2 linked regions of the Homo sapiens genome follow. The protein of the gene in region 1 purifies or fractionates together with the protein of each later gene. This does not show direct contact. Each region holds a gene or a part of one and is shown on either strand. Other genes may lie near its edges. The genes, in order: SPINK4 and TMEM67.

Region 1 (3,287 bases):
AGAGTGGAAATACCTCAATTAAGGTTATACAGCTAATCAGTGGCAAAATTCAGGTTTCTAGGGTTCGGGCCTTCACGGTTGCACCGCACAACCTTTCTCAGCCTATCCCTGTCTCAGGCACTAATGCCAGTCCTGACTGAGTTCTCACCTTGACCTCAGGCCTGTCCTAAAACCCTTTCAGACAGCCTCAATTAAGCCCCAAGCTCTGCCCCATTTCTTCAGCCTTCGCACACTTTGCAGCCTTTCTGACATGGGCCTGATAGATCATGCAGGCCAGGGAGAGTTCAGGAGCCCCCAGGGAGAGAGGGGCCTCCTGGGAATGATGGGTGGTTCCGTATCCTGGGGTCTTCAATGGGACCAGCAGAAGTTCTGATTAGTGCCTCTGAAGAGGGTGTGAACAAGTCCCCAGGAGCTTGAGGGCACAAACTCACTCCACACACATAGACATAAACACAGGCATACGCTTGAATGCCTGCACACCGGGGGCTCCAGAGACACAGGTACACATATGTACACATCCAGCCATAGGCACACACGTGGTCATGCACACGCACATACAAGCAAACACACCAAGGGGCTCTGAGTGGTTGGTTTCATCTTCACTGGACCCACACTGGGGGCCTTCTTGACTCTGATACCTCACTGGGGCCCCACTGGTTCCGAGCAGAACCCCTGTATCCCTCCCCACTGCCTCTGAATCCCTGAGTCCTCTCCCTCCCTTCTCTTCCACAGCCCATCTGTGAACACATGGTAGAGTCTCCAACCTGTTCCCAGATGTCCAACCTGGTCTGCGGCACTGATGGGCTCACATATACGAATGAATGCCAGCTCTGCTTGGCCCGGATGTAAGTCTGCCCCACAACCCCTGCTTGCTTGGGTGGGCCCCATCTCTGGTGCACAGTCTGAAAGGAGCAAGACTTGACCTGCTTCTTCCTTCATACACGCTTGACCTGAGAAGAGTCCTCCAACATATGCCCCTAATAGAATGAGTGCCAGATTAACTCAAAGAAGGCACATGGTTCCAAGCAGAAATCTAGAAGCTGGTGGTGGATAGGGAGTAGGGGCAGAAACCATTTTCCTTGTTCTGCCTTGATTGACTAGGTGACCTCATCTGTTTTTTCATTCGTCTAGCCAGCAATTATTTATTGAGCATTTACTATGTGCTAGGCACTGGGGCTAGAACAGAGCCTAAGTTAGACAGCATCACTGGCCTTCTGGAACATACAATTGGTGTAAGGGGGAAGCCAGGCTGATAGTCAGCCAATTGCAGCACAGAATTTTTTTTTTTTTTTTTTGAGACAGACTCTCACTGTCACTCAGGCTGGAGTGCAGTGGCACGATCTTGGCTCATTGCAACCTCCGCCTCCTGGGTTCAAGTATTCTCCTGCCTCAGCCTCCCGAATAGCTGGGATTACAGGCGCCCACCACCACACCTGGCTAATTTTTTTTTTTTTTTGTATTTTAAGTAGACATGGGGTTTCACCATGTTGGCCAGGCTGGTCTCGAACTCCCGATCTCAAGTGATCCACCCGCCTCAGCCTCCCAAAGTGCTAGGATTACAGGCATGAGCCACCGTGCCCGGCCTTCAGCACAGAATTCTAAGGGATCAGTGGGGCACACAGGAATAAGTAGAAATTAGCTAGGAAAAAGGAGCAAGGGAAGATAATTCCAAGTAGATGAATTTGAAAAGGTCTACAAGGAAAAGTTTACATTTGAGGAAATATAAGAAGTTGGACATGTTGGAGTATAAGGTTTAAGGGAGAATCAGGGAGAGGCAAGAAGTGAGTCCAGAAAGATGAGCAGGGCTAGAACATGACCTCCCTACATCAGATCACCTATTGGCTCTTAGTTTCTTCATCAATAAAACCCATCTTCTATGATCCTGAGAACTAAATGAGACCATGGAAGTGAAGAAAGTCCTCGGAAGCTGCAAAGCTCTGGATAGATGTGAAAGTTTGTATTTGAGGAAATATAAGGAACATCAGGATGTTGTCCTAGCTTAGAGAAAGATCATGCTAATCAAAGACTCATGGTTAGGAGGTACATTGGGAGTGGAATTGACAGGCTTGGTATGTGACTGTATGTAAAGGCTGAGGGGAAGGAGGCAGCATACTGGTTTCTGATTTGTGGGCTTGGGTGGCCAGTGGTTTCATGGGCTGAGATGGGTGGTTTGGGGGTCTGTACCAGTTCTGTGGGGGGCAGTGATGTTTGTGGACAGTTGAGCCCCTAGGACATCCCACTGGATATGGACAACTGCATGAACAGGTAGGACATAGGTCCGAGCTGGAGACAGATTTGGCAGCCATCAGCGTGCGCTGGTGGTGGAAACCCCAGGAAGCTAAAATCCCCCAGGGGAAGGGTGTACAAAAAAGGAAAAGCTGTAGAAGGATGTGCCCATGGACCCTTGGGATCTGCCCTGTATCCATACACTGCATATGTGGGCGACGCTCAGCAGGATGTCTGGATGGACTGTGCCAGGTCCCTGAATGGTACACTACAGCTCCTGAGAAGGTAGCCTCATGCCTGTCTTCTTTGATCCTAGAAAAACCAAACAGGACATCCAGATCATGAAAGATGGCAAATGCTGATCCCACAGGAGCACCTCAAGCCATGAAGTGTCAGCTGGAGAACAGTGGTGGGCATGGAGAGGATATGACATGAAATAAAAGATCCAGCCCAACTGAGTGAAGTGGTCAGTGTCTCTGGGGACACTGGTTGCAGAGGGGATAGGAGGTGGATCTTGCATTGTCGCCTCTACTCTGAATTTGATGTCCAGCTTCTCTCCGTCCCTCTGGTGCTCCTCAACCCTGTCACATGTCCCCTCAGAGGTCCCAGTTATCTTCTGCCTGCCTGAGAGGCCAGTCCCTGACCCCAGGATGCTGCCTAGTACTCCTGTCTGCCCCAGCCTGGACTATCATTCAGGCCAAGAACCTAGGTGAGGTCTGTATCCTCTGCCACTGCTGGGGTGCACGGCCCAGCCTCAGAAAGCCTCTGTGAAATCAGGAACAGTAGCTCATACCTATAATCCCAGCACTTTGGGAGGCTGAGGGTGGCAGGATTGCTTCAGGCCAGCCTGGGCAACATAGCAAGACTGTCTTTACAATTTTTTTTTTTTTTAATTAGCCAGGCTTGGTGGCATGCACCTGTAGTCCCAGCTATTCAGGAGGCTGAGGTGGGAGGGGATTGCTTGAGCCCAGGAAGTCGAGGCTGCAGTGACCCATGATCGCATCACTGCACTCCAGCCTGAGTGACAAAGTGAAACCCTGCCTCAAAAAAGAAAAAAAAAA
Region 2 (2,700 bases), on another chromosome or scaffold:
ACTCTAAATGGGAACATACTATGAAACTATGAAAGAAATTATCATCTTGAAATAATTTTATGTATCACTATGGGATTCAGATACCTGATACATGAAAATAGTTGAGAGAATTAGCTAATTTAATCTAGATATTTTAATCGACGTGCATATTTAATTCTGTTTATATTTCTTTTCATTCTGAATTGTTTTAATTTTCCAGATTTTTAGATATATCCGTAATACAGTAGGACAAAAGAATTTGGCATCCAAAACATTGGTGGATCAAAGATTTTTGATTTAACTTCCTGAATAAATAACTTAAAGACTCAGTATAATCATGGCCAAAAAAAAGTCATGATATCAGGTTAGTTTGCCATATTTTTTAAAACTTATAATGCAGACTATTCTGTTTTTGTTTTTTATTTGCAGAAAGATTTATTTTTATAACTTGGGAATATATAACCTGATATAATAGAAAATACTGTTTTCCCATTGTGTGTAGTATTTAATGCAGTAAATAATAAATTAATACTGACAGTGAGGCCAAAAAAAATCTAAATGTTGCTTTCAGCATAATACTTTTTAATGCTAATTAAAACAGTCCCCATCATTTGTCTCTGTAGATTATTTTATAAACTGAGAGCTGCCTGAATCTTCTCACATTGACAAAGTAATTTGATTCCAAGTTTAAGACTAGTTTTCAGTTTGATATTTTCATGTTTTGTGTGCTTATGGTTAAATAAATGTTGAAAGATATTTTCAAGTTTACTTAGAAATTTTAAATTGTATTATTGCTGATTCAATTTGCATCATTCTAATTGCTCATCCTCTTTGGCAGTGGATTAATTCACTGTTGGGTTAATATGCATCTCATGAAATGATATCTTTTCATTCCTTTGTATACCTGTATTAGGTCAGTATACGCTTTCCATGAAATATATTTGCATTTCTAATATAGTTTACATTTATTAAGTTATAACGTATGACATTTTTCCCAATATCATTTTTTATACATTTTAATTACTTAATGTTTTAAGAGTTCTCTTCCAGAGTTTTGCTTTTCAATTACGTTTAAAGACTGTAAATAACAAACAGTAAGGCTGGGCGCTGTGGCTTACGCCTGTAATCCCAGCACTTTGGAAGGCCAAGGCACGTGGATCACTTTAGGTCAGGAGTTCAAGAACAGCCTGGCCAACATGGAAAACCCCATCTCTACAAAAAATACAAAAATTAGTTGGATGTGGTGGCCTGTAATCCCAGCTATTTGGGAGGCTGAGGCATGAGAATAGCTTGAAACCAGGAGGTGGAGGCTGTAGTGAGCCAGATAGCACCACTGCACTCCAGCCAGGATGACAGAGCAAGACCCTGTCTCAGAAAAAACAAAAACAAAACACTGTAAATGTATCATGTTTCTCACTGCTTTCTATGTTAATGCTGTGTAAATACTTAAAATGGAATACTGTATAAATATTATTTATATTTTCTCAGATGAAAATATATACTAAAACATTTGGTATTTCTGTTTTCTGTTTCATTAATGTATATCTGATGGAGTACCATTTAGGAATATAACATTATTGGGGCAGAGGTCCCAGCCATTGCCAAAGTTGAATCTTTTACATTTCCCTGAATCTTGAGGATGACTGAAAAGGAAGTCTTTGAAACTGCAGTTTCTGAAGGATCACAGTACAGGAATGCCTTTATAAAAGCTGCAGAGATAAATACATGTACTTATATGGCATGGATATTTAAAACCACTCACTCAGAAGCATATGAAAGAAATTCAACCATCATTCAACATAGAAGAAGTTAATTTTAGTGCAAAAGTTTTTAAGTATTAAATTTCACAATAAAGGATCAATTGGCTTACTTGCTGATAAATTAAAACAGAAAACATTTAAAATCATTCTAAATTTTGTATGATATTTTTATTTTGGCTAGGTGCATAAAAATGTGTTCAGATTTTCATACACTGTCGACTCCTTTGTTCACATTGTCACAATTTACATTTCCTGATCATGTGCATAATTATTCACTAGATTCATTACCCTTTGTCTATTTCTGTAGTACCCAATCACTATACTTTGACTCTTATATCCCTGATTTTACTGATTTTCTAGAAACATTTGATTTCTCTTCATTTCATAATGAAACAAAACCTAGAGAGGTTCTTTATAAGCTGTTGTGTACTTTGGATGCTCCTTAGAAACATACAGGCCCCTAAAATACTTCTGTAGACCAGTGCCTCTGTTATGGGAGATTTGTAAATGCTTCCTTCTCTGGCATTGCTGTCCTAACTGCCTTTTCAGAAGGCTTTGCTGATGACCTACATTGAGGAACATTCAAAATGATCATTAACTCAGCACTTACAAGCATGAAGCATGTGTTTTTTTTGTAAATATTGACAAATATAAGCTGAGGGGAAATAACTGTAAGTCAAGGAGCAGTGAGGAGTGTGGCTTAATGGAAAGTGCTCCAAATTTAGCAAAAGAAGCCCTGGATTCAAATTAGAATTTTGCCCATCACTCATAAGCTTTGGTATCTTGAACTAAGTCATTTGCCATCATTGAGCTTCATTCTACATCTCTGCAATGAAAATAATATCCTTTGCTTACCACTTGTTGTAAGGATTAGTTTCGTGGGTGTGTGTGTGTGAGACAGAGAGAGAGAGATGGGGTCTCACTCTTATCACCCAGGTTGGAATGCAGTGGCACGATTTTG

The links.
Region 2: the proteins of SPINK4 (region 1) and TMEM67 purify together in Homo sapiens (affinity purification with mass spectrometry; 2 studies listed by BioGRID and IntAct, with this or other methods). This does not show direct contact.

Annotation. Positions count from the first base shown.
Region 1 is NC_000009.12:33,245,884-33,249,170, forward strand, and holds the end of SPINK4 (serine protease inhibitor Kazal-type 4 precursor), read left to right. Parts: intron 1-732; coding exon 733-845; intron 846-2,542; coding exon 2,543-2,588; 3' UTR 2,589-2,684; downstream 2,685-3,287.
Region 2 is NC_000008.11:93,816,173-93,818,872, forward strand, and holds the end of TMEM67 (meckelin isoform 1 precursor), read left to right. Parts: intron 1-199; coding exon 200-280; 3' UTR 281-1,949; downstream 1,950-2,700. UniProt on the Homo sapiens protein: Required for ciliary structure and function. Part of the tectonic-like complex which is required for tissue-specific ciliogenesis and may regulate ciliary membrane composition.